Linked DNA regions of Homo sapiens: region 1 is linked to region 2. Evidence: fine-mapped expression QTL. A gene starts in region 2. The other region holds a variant in brackets. All regions are shown on one strand. Distances are between the middles of the regions. Region 1 holds the start of PLEKHM2 (pleckstrin homology and RUN domain containing M2). Region 2 holds the start of SLC25A34 (solute carrier family 25 member 34).

Evidence for each region.
Region 1: its variant is fine-mapped to the expression of SLC25A34 in monocytes after LPS (Quach 2016, PIP 0.95).

The regions. Positions count from the first base shown.
Region 1 is chr1:15,677,027-15,685,343 of GRCh38, reverse strand. PLEKHM2 (pleckstrin homology and RUN domain containing M2) reads right to left here and starts at 1,024. Exons shown (of 20, transcript NM_015164.4): 1 at 726-1,024. The coding sequence starts at 785. RefSeq lists enhancers at 41-100, 4,960-5,460 and silencers at 331-400, 921-1,000, 1,091-1,170, 6,163-6,710. The variant C/T (reference allele first, on the strand shown) is at 4,448.
Region 2 is chr1:15,732,186-15,740,502 of GRCh38, reverse strand. It overlaps SLC25A34 (solute carrier family 25 member 34), which reads right to left and starts at 4,245. Exons shown (of 5, transcript NM_207348.3): 1 at 3,640-4,245; 2 at 2,509-2,574; 3 at 2,258-2,410; 4 at 1,775-1,909; 5 at 1-1,279. The coding sequence starts at 4,017. The coding sequence ends at 1,097. It overlaps PLEKHM2 (pleckstrin homology and RUN domain containing M2), which reads right to left. Exons shown (of 20, transcript NM_015164.4): 18 at 7,974-8,153; 19 at 7,775-7,891; 20 at 5,734-6,706. The coding sequence ends at 6,569. It overlaps SLC25A34-AS1 (SLC25A34 and TMEM82 antisense RNA 1), which reads left to right. Exons shown (of 2, transcript NR_149050.1): 2 at 281-452. RefSeq lists enhancers at 4,379-5,145, 5,146-5,911.

The sequences.
Region 1 (8,317 bases), 55 kb after region 2:
CTTTTGCGGATATGCCAACTTCATCACAAATACATGCCCTTGACAGGTATGTACTCATTTCTACCTGGAATTGGGACAGTGATGTTTACTGCGGCAAGCCCCACAGCAAGGTGTCTGTGGTGTCACCCGGTTCCCCGGATCAGCATCCAAAATGCAATCCCCATGTACTTCAGGTTCTTATAATCAAAGCCCCTAGTGAACCTCTTCAAAGCTACCATCCTTGAGCAAGATTATTCAGGGGACTTCCCAGGAGCAGAGGCAATGTCGCCGGGACCCAGGCCATGGGAAAGTGAAGTTGCTTATCACTGGCCTCCACCCTGACTGCCAGACCCTGGGCGACGCCAGCCTGGCGGGGGGACCCGGGGATGCAGCGGATTCCACAGGAGGCTGCATGGGGTTCCTTCAGGAGCTCCCGGGGGCGCCGCTGCCCCAGTGGGGGACCGGAGGGTCGCTGACCCCTCTCCGGGAGGGCAGGGCCCCGGGCCAGGTTTGGGGAAGCTCCGAGGATGCTGACCTCAACTTTGTTCTTTAAAAATAGCTCCGAGGCCGCGGCGCTCACGTGAGCGGCGCCGCTTCCCCTCTACCGGCCCGGGGCTCCCGGCCGCTCGTCGCCCCCCGGGTCGCGGAGGGGAAGGGCGGGGGGCCCCGGCCCGGGAGAGCGCCGCCGGAGGGCGTGGGGGGCGCGGCGAGGAAGGGGCCCCGGCCGGGAGGGAGGCCGCGCTCACCTTCTTCACCGACAGCGAGATGTTCTCCAGGATCCGGTCCTTCACCTCCCCCGGCTCCATGGCGCTGCCACCGTCGCCGCCACCGCCACCGCCACCGCCGCCGCCGCCCCGCCGCCGCTTCCCGCGCCGGGGGCCGGGGGCCGCCGCCAACCGCTGCCGCCGGCCGTACGGGGGCTCCGTCGTGCCGGCCGCGGGGCCCGGCGCCCGCCGCCCGGCCCTCGCCTCGCCTGGGCCCTCGCTCCACCGCGGCCCGGAGGCTCCGGAGCGCGGCCGGCGGGGAAGGAGGCCGCGGGCTGTGCGCCGCGGCGGCGGCGGCGGCAGGAACTGATGTCAGGCGGGGCGGCGCCAGGGCCCGCCTGCGCCTGGGGACTCCGGGGACCCGGAGACCCGCACAGACCCTTGGCCGCGGCCCTCCCCAGAGACCCCGAGACCCGCCCCCAGCCCTCCTCAAGTCACAGACTCTCCCCGGCACCCCAGAGACACCCTCAGACCCCAGGGACGCCAGAGACCTCGACCCCGCCTGCCGGGGACCTCGGGGCTCCTCAGAGACCCTCCCCAAGCCCTCCTCAGCCCACAGATTCCTTCAGGGACCCCAGAGACACCCTCAGACCCCAGGGACTCCGGACACCCCGACCCCGCCTGCCAGAGACCCCCACAGACCCTGGGACCCCGGCCCTCCTCGGAGACCCTCCCCCAGGCCTCGTCAGCCCACAGATTCCCTCAGGGACCCCAGAGACACCCTCAGACCCCAGGAACTCCGGAGACCCCGACCCCGCCTGCCCGGGACACCGGCCCTCCTCAGAGACCCTGGAGACCCTCCCCCTCAGCCCTCAGGCCATAGACTCCCCCCTGGGACCTCAGAGACACCCTCAGACTCCAGGGACTCCGGAGACCCCAACCCCACCTGCTGGGGACCCCCACAGACCCTGGGCCCCCAGCCCTCCTCAGAGACCCCCAAAGACCCCGAGGCACTGGCCCTCCCCAGAGACCCTGAGACCCTCCCCACAGCCCTCCTCAGCCCACAGGATCCCCCCACAAAACCCCAGAGACTCCCACAGGCCCCAAGGACTCTGGAGACTCCGACCCCACAGGCCAGAGACCCCCACAGACCCTGAGACCCCGGCCCTCCTCAGAGACTCGAGACACCCACAGACCCTGGGCCCCCTCCCGCCGGCCCTCTTTAGTCCACAGACCCCTCCTTGGAGACCCCAGTGCACCCCACTAACTCTGGCCAGGGACCCCAAGACCCTCTTAGCCTGCAAGCCCCACTTATCTTCCTCCCCTTCCTTAGCCCAGCCACCCCCTCAATGTGCAGACCCAGGCCCCCTGGCTTTCGCAGCCTGGAGGACCCAGCACCCCCACCGGGTCAGCCTAGACTCCAGTCCCCAGCCCTAGACCCTCCCTGGGCCCCCTGGCCCTCCACAGCCTCCCCTCCTCAGTGCCTCACCCTCAAGGCCCAGTCCTACATTTGAGGTCCCTGGTGTTCCTCCCCACCCCCAAAACACACCCTCCTCACCTTCAGCCCCAATGCCCCATTCCCACTCCTTATCCTTATCCCTCTTCTTCAGCCCCACGTATCCCAAGGGCCTCAACTCCCTCAGCCCCTGAAACCCACCGTAACAACTCTCTTCCCACACACCCTCCTCAAATCCACCATCTCATAAAGCCCCTGCACTTAGAGGTGTCAGTCTCCTACCTGGCTCTCTTCCCTCCTTAAGTTCCCAAATAAATATATCCTGACACATAGATTAGTCCCTCCTTTTTATTCTCAGACACCCCAGTTCTCAACTCTGGTTCCCTGGTCTTCCCTCTTCTCTGCTCAGGCCACCCCATCCCTGAAGTCCCCTTAGCATCTGAAATACTGATTCATTGCTTATCTCAGAGGGACCCCACAAGCCTCCAAAGGTCGCTCCCCAGCCCCTTAGTTTCCCAAGGAGAGACCCAAAATAGTGGTACTTTGTTTTTTGTTTTTTTTGTTTTGTTTTGTTTTGTTTGTTTTTGAGACAGAGCCTTGCTCTGTTCCCCAGGCTGGAATGCGGTGGTGCGATCTCTGCTCACTGCAACTTCCGCTTCCCAGCTTTAAGCGATTCTCCTGCCTCAGCCTCCCGAGTAGCTGGGACTACAAGTGCATGTGACACCATGCCCAGCTAATTTTTTTTTTTTTTTTTGAGGCGGAGTCTCGCTCTGTCACCCAGGCCGGAGTGCGGTGGCACAATTTCAGCTCACTGCAACTTCCTCCTCCCAGGTTCAAGTGATTCTCCTGTCTCAGCCTCCCCAGTAGCTGGGATTACGGGCGCCTGCCACCACGCCCAGCTAATTTTTTTGTATTTTTAGTAGAGACGGGGTTTCGCCATGTTGGCCAGGCTGGTCTTGAACTCCTGACCTCAGGTGATCTGCCCGCCTTGGCCTTAAATTATTTTTTAAAGACAGGGTCTCACTCTGTCACCCAGGCTGGAGTGCAGTGGTGGGTGTGATCATAGCTCACTGTAGCTTGAACTCCCTGGGGGATCCTCCCACGTCAGCCTCCCCAGTAGCTGAGAGTACAGAATAAAATACGCCCAGCGAATTTTATTTTTTGTAGAGACAGGGCCTCGCTCTGTTACCCAGGCTGGTCTTGAACTCCTGAGCTCAGGCCATCCTCTTACCTCAGCCTCCCAAAGGGCTGGGATTACGGGCATGAGCCATCATGTCCAGCCCAGGGCGTTTTCTTATTTGTACTGAGTTCAGGAAAGCAAGAGATAACAGCCTCTTTGGAGTTGTTATCTACCTCTCATATTCAGAGAGCAGAATAAGAACAGATGAGGGTTGAGACTCCAGTCACTGGATAGGTAGAGAAAAGGTTGAGGACAGAGGACACATTACTTTGAATGAGGAAATAAATAGCCAGGTATCTATGAGTAGAAATAGCCTCCTACTTACCAAAGGTGTTTGTGGAGTCAGAATTGCGCACTTCCTTCCCACTCCATCCTGGCTAGGGTGCATACAGGCCCCAACCTGCTGGATGCAGCTCTGGTTCATGAAAATGCAGTCCCCCAAAACTGACCCAACAAGCTTTGGGATTCTTCTCTGCTGTTGAATAGCAGGCCATCTTCTGCTGAGCACTGCGTTCTGCTGGGCACCTCCTCCCTAGGAATGGCTGATCATGGCTTGGGCACATGGTACACTCAGTGGGTATTTTTATTCCTTGGCTGTATGCCTGGGGCGTCCACTTGGTCTGTGACATAAGAAGGTGGTGGCATTTCTGCCATATTGTTTTTATCTGCATGTATTGGGAGATGGTCACATTCAGCATTTTACAACATTCAGAGGAATGTAAGGTCTCACTGTCTACCAAATTCCTAAGGTTTGCATAGGTATGTGAGCTGGTACAACAGACATTGTTATCTAACAACACTTCTTGCAGGAAAGAGGGAGAGGCCAAATGTGCATTGATGTGCAGCTAATTGCTCCTTGTCCAGAGTTCAAATATGGAATCCGTTCTGCGTGTCAAACACAGGGCGAGCCGGGCATGGTGGTGCATGTCTATAGCCTCAGCTGCTTTGGAGGCTGAAGAGGGAGGATCTCTTGAGCTCATGTGGCTGCACTCCAGCCTGGGTGACAGAGCAAGACTTCACCTCTTAAAAAACCCCAAAAAGCAAACCAAAAAAAAAAGGGTGACTCTGAAAAACACAAGATACTTATTTGTTATTGGGAGTCACTTAAGCTGGAAATTGAAGCTCATT[C/T]ATTTATTGCACAAGACTTTTCTGATCTCATGAGAAGTGCATGGGACTCTGAGTCAAAAGGCAACAAGAATTAAAAGCCTCAACTGACTCATGCTAGGGCCTCAGGCAAGTCACTTTGCCTTAATTTCCAAATCAGTGACCCAGGAAAAATGATTCTATTCTTATTTTTTGTTGTTGTTGTTTTTTGAGATGGAGTTTTACTCTGTCGCCCAGGCTGGAGTGCAGTGGCTCCATCTTGGCTCACTGCAACCTCCGCCCCCCCCGGGTTCAAGTGAGTCTCCTGCCTCAGTTTCCCAAGTAGCTGGGATTACAGATTCCTGCCACTGCACCTGGCTAATTTTTGTATTTTTAGTAGAGTTGGGGTTTCACCATCTTGGCCAGGCTGGTCTCGAGCTCTTGACCTCATGATCCACCTGCCTCAGCCTCCTAAAGTGCTGGGATTACAGGTGTGAGTCACCGCGCCCAGCCTGTTGTTTTCTGAGACAGAGTCTCGCTCTGTCACCCAGGCTGGAGCGCAGTGGCGTGTTCTCAGCTGACTGCAGCCTCTGCCTACTGTCATAGCATTTAGAATACAGTCCATACTCTTTTCTCTGGCTTCCAAGGCTGATCTGATCCAGCCTCCCTCCCTGACTCATCTCCTAACTCTCCGCTGGTGTGTGCCAGCCCCACCAACCTTAGTTTCTCAAGCATGCTGGTCTGTTCGCATCCGAGGGCCTCTAGCTATTCACCCAAATCTGCTCTCTCTGGCTGCGTGTGATGGCTCACGCCTGTAATCCCAGCACTTTGGGAGCCCAAGGTGGGACGATCACTTGAGCCCAGGAGTTCAAGACCAGCCTGGGCAACAAAGTGAGACCCCCCATCTCTACAAAAAATCCAAAAATTAGCCAGGCATGGTGATGTGTTCCTGTGATCCCAGCTACATGGGAGGTTGAGGCTGCAGTGAGCCATGTTTGCACCACTGCACTCCAACCTAGGCAACAGAGCAAGACCCTGTCTCAAAACAAAAGCCAAACAACAAAAAAACAAAATCTTCTCTCTCTTTACACAGTAATAGGGTTGTAGCCAGGCAGAGTGCTGCACTACATTTCCCAGCCTCCTTTGTGACACGCACAGCTATATGATCAAATCCTCTCAAATAGAACATGAACAGAGAAATGTGATCCATTCCTAGGCTGGGATTCTATGCAAATTTCCTCTTCCATGCTGTTTCTTCTTCTACCAGTGCAATGAAGCCAAGGGGATGTCAGACATATAAAATATAGACACCCTAGTTCCCTGAATCACTGCATGGAAGAGAGCTGTCCATCAACCTAGAACAGCTGCCTTGAGCTGTAGCATAGAAAGGGCTATGCTACAGTTTCTTTTTTTCTGATTAATTTTCTGATTAATTTCTTTTTTCTGATTAATTTTTAACTTAATTAAAATGCAGATAAAGTTTTTAGCTGGCCATGGAAGTTAAAGGACAAAAGACACTGGGTGCAGTGGCTCACGCTTGTAATCCCAGCACTTTGGGATGCCGAGGTGGGTGGATTGCCTGAGGTCAGGAGTTCAAGACCCCAGCCTGGGTGACAAAAAATAAAAAAGAGAGAACTAAGGACAGATGTAAGGTTGCTTCTCTTTACACCTGATGATACAGTTTGGATATTTGTTTCAAATCTCATGTCAAAATGTAATCCTTAGGCCAGGCACGGTGGCTCATTCCTATAATCCCAGCACTTTGGGAGGCCAAGGCAAGCAGATCACTTGAGGTCAGGAGTTCGAGACCAGCCTGGCCAACATGGTGAAACCCCATCTTTACTAACAATACAAAAATTAGCCAGGTGTGGTGCACGTGCTTTAATCCCAGCTACACCGGAGGCTGAGGCAGGAGAACCACTTGAACCCAGGAGGCGGAGGTTGCAGTGAGCTGAGATCGCGCCACTGCATTCCAGCCTGGGTGCAGAGCAAGACCTGTCTCAAAAAAAAGAAAATAAATAAATAAATAAAAGGAATCCTCAGTGTTGGAGGTGGGGCCTGATGGGAGGTGACTGGATCATGGGGGTGGAGTTCTCATGAATGGTTGAGCACCATCCTCTTGGTGCTGTCCTCAAAACAGTGAGTGAATTCTTGCAAGATGTAGTCATGTAAAAGTATGTGGCACCTCCCCACCACTCTCTCTCACTTCCTCTTGCTTTTGTCATGTGATAAGCCTGCTCCTGCTTCACCTTCTGCCATGAGTAAAAGCTCCCTGAGGCCTCCCCAGAAGCTGAGCAATGTTGGCCCATGCTTGTGCAGCCTGCAGAATCACGAGCCAATTAAACCTCTTTTCATTATAAATTACACAGTCTCACTGAGCACGGTGGCTCACACCTGTAATCCTAGCACTTTGGGAGGCCAAGGCGGGTGGATCACTTGAGGTCAGGCATTCGAGACCAGCATGGCCAACATGGTAAAACCCTGTATCTACTAAAAATACAAAAATTAGACAGGCGTGGTGGTGCATGCCTGTAGTCCCAGCTACTTGGGAGGCTGAGGCAGGAGACTCGCTTGAACCCAGGAGGTGGAGGTTTCAGTGAGCCAAGATCACACCACTGCACTCCAGCCTGGGTGACAGAGCAAGACTCCATCTCAACAAAATAAAAATAAATTACCCAGTCTCAGGTATTTCTTTATAGCAATGAAAGAATGGCCTAATACACCTGATTTGAGCCTTTCCATTCTAGGAAGATAATGGGTGAGGTACTAGAGGTACTATGATCAAAGTCTGTACAACTATTAGCAGGGAGATACTGTTTGCCAATGTCCCAAATTAGTCTTATATGTGGGTATAATAAAAAGTACTACTTCACTGGGGCCAGGTGCAGTGGCTCACACTTATAATCCCAGTACTTTGGGAGGCTGAGGCAGGAACATTGCTTGAGGTCAGGAGTTCAAGTCCACCCTGGGCAACATAGTAAGATCCTGTCTCTAAGAAATTTTTAAAAATTAGCTGGGTGTGCCGGTATGCACCTCTAGCCCTAGCTACTTAGGAGGCTGCTGTGAGAGGGTGGCTTGAGCCGAGGAGTTTCAAGATTACAGTGAGCTATGATTGTGCCACTGTACTCCAGCACTCCAACCTGGGTGATAGAGTGAGATGCTGTCTAAAAAAAAAAAAAAAAAAACAAAAAAACCTACCTCACATAGAAGTCCGCAAGCATACTAACCCCCCTGAATGTAATCTGCCTTAAATCTACATTAAACTCAGCATCAGCAGTCACTGGGGCTAGAATCTCTCAACTGGCCTCACTGACCTGTCTCGGTTTCAGGCACACTTCTGCCACTAGCTATGTCACCCCACTTATGGCAGCCTCTCAGGGCCTTTGAAGTCAGGAAACTGAGGCAGCAAAATGGTGTTCCTGGATTTGTTCTTTCAAAACATATCTGAGTGGTGTAAGAGTTGAAGAAAGAAGAAAGAAACATGAAAAGTGGCTTAACAGTCAAACATGGGCTTATTTTGGAGTATAAACCTGAGAGGGGCTTCTGGCCAACTTAGGTCAGGAGCCTTTTCTCTTACAGACTATGAGTATTTAAGAGTTCAGGGTGGGAGAGCTTATCACAGGCTCGGAATGTTTCTGTGTCTCTTTGTCTTGCTTACCTGGGAGGGAGAGTTGTGTGTCTGTTCCCATACATCTTCCTGCAGCTGCAGGCATCCCCCCACCCCCTGAGTCTGCTTTTAGCTTCCTTATCTTAGTGCACCTAGAGGGAAAGGAATGTGCTTATTAGGGCCCACTGTTTTACTGGGGCTCATTGTATGAGTGTGAAGTTGGGTGGTTACCCGAGACTTTCTCCCTCCTTCTGTGCCTGAGCTGTCTTATCTGTGCTTACTGTCTGCTCTTTCTGGCTGCTTGTCAT
Region 2 (8,317 bases):
AGTTCGAGACCAGTCTGGCCAACATGGCAAAACCCCATCTCTACTAAAGATACAAAAATTGGCCGGGTGTGGTGGCACACACCTGTAATCCCAGCTACTCAGGAGGCTGGGGCAGGAGAATTGCTTGAACCTAGGAGGCCAAGGTTGCAGTGAACCGAGATCGTGCCACTGCACTCCAGCTTGGGTGGCAGAGTGAGACTTCATCTCAAAAAAAAAAAAAAAAATTAAAGTGGGGTCATGAGGGTGGGCCCTAAGCCAACATGATTTGTGTCCTTATAAGAGGAGGAGATCAGGACCCAGACGCACATCGAGGGACCACCATGTGCAGACACAGAGAGAAAGCAGCATCTGCAAGCCATGGACAGAGGCCTCAGAAGAAACCAGCCCACTGACACCTTGGTCTCCAGCATCCAGCCTCCAGAACTGTGAGAAAATACATTTCTATTGTCTAAGTCGCCCAGTCTGTGGTTCTTTGCTACAGCTTCTCCAGCAAATAAGGCAGGTGACGACGCCACAGCCTCCTGGTGCACCTCAGCCTTTGCCATGGTACAGTGACCCCTATGGGCAGTCCGGGCCCATGGGCCTGTCACAGTCACGCACTTGTCAAGCGCATAGGTCTAGGGTGAGCAGGGCTAAGCTCCAGTCCTGGCTCTGCCACTTCAAAATTGTGTGGCTGTGGTCAAAGCCCACCACTCTAGGCCTTGGCTTTCTAATGGTAAAAGAAGTAAAAGTGCCTGCCTCGTGCTGCTGTCTGAGGCCTAAGTGAGCCGATGTATGTAAGTTACTGGGCCTATGCCATGTGCACGCCCGCAGCAGTTGCTATAACTGAGCAAGGCTCTGGGATGTGGTGACCCAGTACGCAGTACAGAGAAGGAAGAGAACTGTCTGGAAGACAGAATGGGTGGTAACTTGAAGTGGATGCTCTGGACCTGGGTGGGCCAAGGGGCTGGATGGACCAGAGCTGTCCACACTCTCCCGGGACCTCTGGCAGGGCCTGGGCCCATGGCCCGCCCCGGGACAGCCAGTTGTCCTGGAGCAGGCTCTCACTTCCGGCCAAGTGCCGGCCGTGTCAGGACGTGGGGGTGAGGGCCGTCGTCTAGGTGCCCTTGTGCTGGGCCCGCCCAGCCAGTTTCCGAAGCTCGTCCCAGAAGAGCATGCTGAGGATGGTGTGGGGGCCCAGGCGCAGGTAGGCGGGGCCCAGGCCCTTGTAGAGTGCCAGGGGGCCCTCCTGCCGCCAGATCTTCACCATGCAGTCGGTGAGGCCCCCATAGAGCTGGCCCTGGGGAAAGACATGGGGTGAGTGTTACTACAGGGGCCTTGAGGCCCTGGCTGGCACCACATCTTGGCACACGGGTCAATTTCACCCCCACACACCCTATGGACAGCACCTTTGTATTGGACACACCTGTGAGGCTGCGGCGCCATGGGAAGGCTGTGGGGTCAGGCCTGAATTCCAGTTCTGGCTCCTCCCCTTACCAGCTGGGGGAACTCATGCAAGTCAGTTGATCTGTCTGAGCCTCAGCTTCCTCATCAGGAAGATGAATGTGATTATAAGGATGGAATAAAATCCAGATGTGAAAGTGCTTAGCCTGTGCCTGGGACCCGGGGGCTCAGCAAACAAGCCCAGTTAATGTGTTTGCATACCTGGCCTGTGTCTGCGTGTCTCTGGCTGTGCATGTGTGAGTGTGAGTGTGTGAGAGTGTGTGTGTGTGTGTGTGTGTTGGGGGGGTGCTCCCAGCTCCCCACGGTCTCCCCTAGACCCGCCCCTGCTCACCCTGCCAGCTGTGTCCACCGGCTGATTGTATAGCCGCGTGCTGACCACATCGAAGGGAGTCATGACGACAACCACGGCTATGCTGCTGATCATGCCCCCAGCCAGGGCCACCAGCCAGCTGTCCTCAGGGAGCCACTGTGGGGATGGCACAGGTGCTGATCCCTGCAACAGCTCTCTACCCACCCACGTCGTGCCCTCCCGGCCTCCTACCACACAGGGGCTAAAAGGGCTACAGAAAGGGGAGCAGATGAGGCCCCTCCAGCCATCCCCCAGCCCTGCCACCCTGAGCTCCTTCTCAGCTTTGGGGTTCACTGCTGACCCCACACTCCTGCTGGTACCAAGGGCCGGAGTCACGACTCTGAGGGCAGAGGCAGGGCCCCATCTGTTGCCACCCCCTGGTCTTCCCCGTGTGGAAGGAGGCAGGTGGCCCCCCTCAGTCCGGTGTGTCTCTGTGGATAGGCACAGGTGTCCCCAGCTCCTCACCTGTTGCTTCTGTACCCAGGCCTTGGCAGAGGCGAAGGTGGCCAGCTGGGCAGCTGAGCCCACCATGACTCGGGGCACAGCCCCACCAACGCCCTGCCACAGCCCCAAGAGCCCTTGCTGCCGCCAGATGGTCTCCAAGGCACCCAGGACAGTCTGTGGGGAGAGGGCACGGGGTCACTGGCCACCCCTGCCTAGGCTGGGAGCATGCCCAATCCATGCCCCCAGGGAGCTCTGAGAGTGGCAGGCCTCACCTGGTGATTGTGCTGGTGTCCCACGGCCACTGCGGCCACTGTCTGAGCTTGCAGCTGCGTTTTGATCTATGGGAGCAGAGAGGACACGGGTGTGGGGATGGAGCCTGGGAGAGCCAGGGTGAGCTGTGTGTGTTGAGGGCGCCCTGCCCCCGTGCCCCTGAAACTCACAGCTCCATGGTCCCGAGCCTGAAGCTTAGGGGTCAAGTGAAATAGGGTTGAGGTGCAGCTCTGGGGTTGGCCTGGGTTTTGCGTCTCAGTGTGACTTGGAGCAAGTTACTTAACCTTTTCTGGGCCTCAATTCTGTCACGGTTGGAAAGCTGTTCTGAGGATTAAGTGAGACAATGATCCTCCAGCACCAGCCAAGGGCAAGGCGAGCCTTTGCTCAAGGGGAGCTTTTTTTTTCTTTCTTTCCTTTTTTTTTTTTTGAGGCAGAGTCTTGCTGTGTTGCCCAGGCTGAAGTACAGTGCCATGATCTTGGCTCACTGCAAGCTCTGCCAACTGGGCTCAAGTGATTCTCCTGCCTCAGCCTCCCCGGTAGCTGGGATTACAGGCATGCATCACCACGCCCAGCTAATTTTTGTACTTTTTAGCAGAGACAGGGTTTCACCATGTTGACCATGCTGGTCTCAAACTCCTGACCTCAGGTGATCTGCCCGCCTCGGCCTCCCAAAGTGCTGGGATTACAGGCGTGAGCCACTGCACCCAGCCAAGGGTAGCTTTCTTCAAAACATTTTTTAATTTTTTATTTGTTTTGGGTGGCCCTGAGGCCCCCCTGCAGAGTGCACACGAGGCGGAGGCCCTCAAGGGTAGCTTTTATTCTTATCGTACATGAGGCCATGCGGGAAGAGAAGTAACCAAGCCAGGATTTGAGCCAGCACATCTGACACCCTCTGCCCCCTCCCCTGGCTCAGGACCAGTGGGGCAGGGACCGCAGGGGAGCATGGATCAGAGCAAGGCCCTGGGCCAAGGGGCAGATTCCAGGCTTGGGCTAGGATGTTCCAGGGAGCAGCCCCACCCCGGCTGCCCCACCCCACCCAGGTCCACTGAGCCCTGCCTTTGGAGGCTGCAGGGCCCCTGTGGGAGCTGGGTCATGGGATGGTGGAGGGTGGACGATGGAGACAAGCCACTCACCAGGTAAGCAGGGCTCCCCACGAAGGCTCCCAGTGCCCCCGCCACGGCTCCCGCAACCACGGTGCCACCTGGTTGCTGCGTGAGGCCAGCCTGGCACGCCAGGCTGTAGCAGTAGAAACGAACGCCATTCATGAGGCCTTGGTACAGAAGGCCGGCAGCCAGCCCCTTCTGCAGGCCCCACAGCCCGTCTGCTCGGGCCACAGCAGCGACAGAGGCTATGAAGCCATGGTAGGGCCGTGGGTAGGTGCCCCGGGCCTGCAGCTCCCCCTGCAGCTGCAGCCGCGTCTTCACCACCTCCAGGGGGTTGGTGAAGACACAGGCCAGGCAGCAGGCAGAAGCACCCAGCACCAGGTCCACTGCTGGGGGCACCGTCTCCATGGCCTCCGGGCCAGTGGCCTTCTGTGCCCGGGTCAGGGGCACGGCACAGGCCCTGTGGTGGTGGCGTTTAGGCTGTCTGTAACCTCGCAGGGCTACGGGGCTGGGGTTTGCAGGGGACCGAGGCCATGTCTAGAGGGTAAGGGTCCTGGTCTGACAGGCCTGTGGCTGCCTGGTGTCCCTGGTCTATCTCAGCAGTCCACCTGCTCTGCTCAGCTGTTCCAGCGGTCTGCCGGAGCCTGGGACGCGCCTCCGCCAGCTGCGACCAATCCCAGCTGCCTCTGTGCCCACACCTGCCAGCCGAGGGCGGGCCTGGACCCTGGGATCTGGGGGAAAGGTCACTTGGGACTGGAGGGAGAGCGTGGATAGGGAGAAGGTGCCAACCAGCCCAGGCACCTCCTCCTGGCCTCCCTCTGGCCCTGGGCAAAGGGCTGGCACCCCTGCCTTGCCTCTGGCTTAGCCTGTCCAGCTTTGGCAGAGCCCTAGGCAGGGGGCAAGTGACTGGGAGGTCCCTGGCATGGGGTACACGGCCAACTCCGCCCCTGCCCCACCCTGCCCCTGATATGCCCCTGGTGACTGACTTCCCCTTTCCAGGACTCAAGTCTTCAGTCTGGCTCCCACCGTCTATAGGCCCATGCTCAGCAGGGTCAGAAGTAGAGAAGGGCTCTGGAGCCCTGGGGAGCTGATTGGAATCCCAGGTGTGGCTCTCATGTGTGACCCCTGGGCAAGTCACTTCCTCTCAGAGCTTCAGTTTCTCTCATTTGTAAAATGGAGATACTGACATCCACTCCAGAAGGTTCTGTGGAGGACTGGCGATGAGAAGAGTGTGCCTAGGTCAGTGCTGCACCCGATAAAGGCACCCGCATCGCCTGCTCGCCCCCACCCCCACTGCCTCTGGCTCCTATGCCCCCCTCGCTGCTCCCAGGACTTCAGGGCACCTGGGTGAGTAGGACTTGAGGAGTGACCTTGGCTGGTAAGGACTTGCTGCCAGGCCTGCCCTGGGATGCCCTTTGTGCCCGCTGAGAAGAGAACGCCACCTGGGCCAGCTGTCAGGTGTGTCTGCTCAGGCTGGGGCCGGTACCAACATGCCCACCTTGGCCTCTGCCCCCAGACAGCTCTCTCCTGCCAGGCCACCCTCAGTCACCCAAGGCCCAGTCCAAACTAGAGGCAGAACCACCCAAGTTGGAGTCCCACACCCACCTCCCAGGGCCCACCCCTTCCCTCCCAGGCCCTTGAGGCAGCAATGCTGAGTGGCTTGAGGGCCTCAGGCTCCCGGCCTGGCAGGGTTGTCACCCTCTGGCCAGCCCTGGAGGGGACGGCGCAGCAAGAGGCAGCGAGGACAGCTTGGATTCTCCTGGGTTTGGGCACTCACCCCCGGGGCTGTGGAGGCAGGAGCGTCCTGCCCCGGGGTGGGCTGCAGATGGTGGGCGGCGGTGCAGACGTGCCCTGGGGCTTGAGCTGGTGGCTGCTCCTCCCCTGGCTGCTGCAGCAAACAGGAACAGGACGGAGGGCAAAGGTCGGGCCGAGAAACTCCCAGGGCCTGAGGGTCTGCAGACGGTGAGTCCGCCCGGCAGCGGTGGCTGATCTGGTTCTGCATGTCCCGTGTGTCCCTTGTGTCAGGCACAGGGCAGATGATGGAGGAAGGTTTGCAGAAAAGGGCCCAAGGGATTTGGAGAGCTCCCTTCCCCTACCCTGCTCAAAAAGGGCCAGTGACAAGCCTTGGCAATATAACATGTCTATTTTATTTTAAAAAACAAAACCCAAACCACCTGACCCCTTCCCCAGGAGGCTCTTGACGAAACTCTAGGGAAGGGCCTGGCTCCAGCCAAGCAGGGGACAGTCAGAAGATGTCAACATGGATGCCAGGCTGGTGGGCTCCGCCCTTCTCCAAGCCCCCCATCCACCCCCTTTGCTCCTCGGTGCTACAGGCACTGCCGGGTTGAGGGGACAGGCAGGGCAGGACTGTGGGCATGCAGAGCCTCCTGGCAGCCAGGGAGGGCTGCCCGCCCCCCTGCATCTGGCGAGGCAGGCAGCTGTGTGCGCAGTGATGGAGCTAGGAGGAGGAAACATGCGCAGACACCCCGTGTTCCCGCTTCCCCACGTGGCCAGGAGAGTGTTCAAACACGAACAAGGATGGCTGGGCACTCAGGGCCCCAGCCCCCAACCCAGGAGAGGAAGAGGGGGGTCCCGCCCTCCTGGTTCTTTTGTTCGTCCTTAGATGGATGGTGTTCTCGGTGCCACTCGGCAGAAATTCTGCAGACTGAGGCGGAGGCCCGGGAGGAGGGCGTGCATCCGCAGAGCCCACAGGGCTCGGACCCTCTGCCCCCAGCGACCTCCATTCGCTACCTGTCGGGCAGGATGCCCAGGGGTGCCGGGCACCTGATCTGGATCCCTGGAGTGGAGGGACCCTGTCTTAAGCCACACTCGGTGGTTCTGCCGCCCAGGGCAGGGGTGGACTGTAGGCTCCCGACAGCATGACAACAGCCGTGACAGTGTGCCTGCCGGCTGGCGTGCCTTCCTTTCCTGCCCACCAGGGACGCCAACCAGCTCTGCCTCAGCACCAGGGGTCTCGGGAGGCTCGGCCGCGGCAGAGACTGTCGCTCCGCTGCCAGGCGCTGTGGATGAGGCTCAAGGCATCCTCGAATTTCTTCTTGTTGGAGGCTTCCTGGATCGCCGTGTGGGGGAGGTCCACCTGTGTTGGGGCGTGCAGAGAACAGATGAGGGCCACTGAGGGCCACAGGAGTCTTCAGGGCTTGTGGGCACCAGGCCTGCCTCTGCCTTGGCCACGGAGCCCCTGTCAGGCCCTCCCCATCTCTCCCTGGGAACATCTTCCACGCTGCTAGTTTCTCCCGCTCTTCCAGGGGCTTGAGCTGAGGATGGGGTGGTGCCCCCCGAGCTCCCTCTTTCCTGGGAAGGCCCCAGCTCTCAGGATGGCCCAGCGAGGCAGGCGCTGCACTCTGTTTGGCTCTGCAGGGAGGTGTCTGTCCTGAGCTGTTCTCTGCCTCTAACTAGTCCAGGCTTCCACGGGGCTAGAGCGTAGCATGTGCTCAAAACCCGCTTGTGCAGGGCTCTCATGAGCACGCTCCCACACTGGCACTCAGCCTGGAGGGCAAGGAAGAGGGTACTGCCAATATTGTGTCCCCCCATCTGAGCACAGCTGGAGGTCCACCACAATTCGTGCTGTTTGATTGGAACTGAGGTCAGGAATTAAGCTTCTTGGGTTCTGTTTTCAGCTTTGGCCTCAGACTCACTGGGAGTCAGGGTTTTGTCCTTTTGATTCTAAGTTTTTGTGCCTGTCAGGTGTGTCTGCTCAGTCTGGGGCTGGCACCAACATGCCCACCTTGGCCTCTGCCCCCAGACAGCTCTCTCCTGCCAGGCCACCCTCAATCACCCAAGGCCCAGTCCAAACCAGAGGCAGAACCACCGGGGCTGGAGTCCCACACCCACCTCCCAGGGCCCACCCCTTCCCTCCCAGGCCCTTGAGGCAGCAATGCTGAGTGGCTTGAGGGCCTCGGGCTCCCAGCCTGGCAGGCTTGTGCGCAGCAAGAGACGGCAAGGACAGTGAGGACTCTTCTGGGTTTGTTTTAAGAGCAGCAGGCACTCACCCCCGGGGCTGAGGCAGGAGCGCCCTGGTACATGGCTGTGCCCAGGACCCTGGAGGCAGGGCCAAGTCCTGGGAGCAGCAGGGGTTCCTCTCCCCGGGGAGTGGCTCCCACTCCACAGGGTCCCTGGCTAATGGGTTTCCTGGGCAGCTGGGTACCTGATAGATGGTTTTCCACCCAGAGTTCAGTGCAGACAGCAATCGGTCCAGTTCAGAAGTGCAGCTCAGGTAGATGACCCAGGGCGGGAGGAGCTGCTGGCTGTCCTGGGAGAACTCCTAGGGAGAGCCAGGCCCCCGGGTGAGCAGCCAGAGCTTTCCTTCTGCAGGCCTTGCAGCCCCGCCCCCACTCAAAGCTCACCAAGACGCAGTACTCCTTGCCCGGCTCGGTGGAGACGGCGCTGATGTCGCCCAGCTTGGCTGTGCCCAAAGAGCGGAAGAAGCTGGTCTGGCAATCCTCATGGCACGTAAAGAGGCGGTCATCCGTGAGGACCAGGCAGCAGGGTATGCAGGGGCTGGGAGCTACGCCCTGGGGGATGACCTGGCAGCGGGGCAGGGGAGAGGCAGGCTGGGGCCTCCAGGGCTGGTCTGCACCAGAAGTCCACACTCCAGGGGACCAGCCAGCCCTTCTGCTCTCCCTCCAGGGATCTCCCTCCAGGGATCGGGAGCAGAGGCGGGGATGGGGGTGATGCCTCTGAGCTCCAG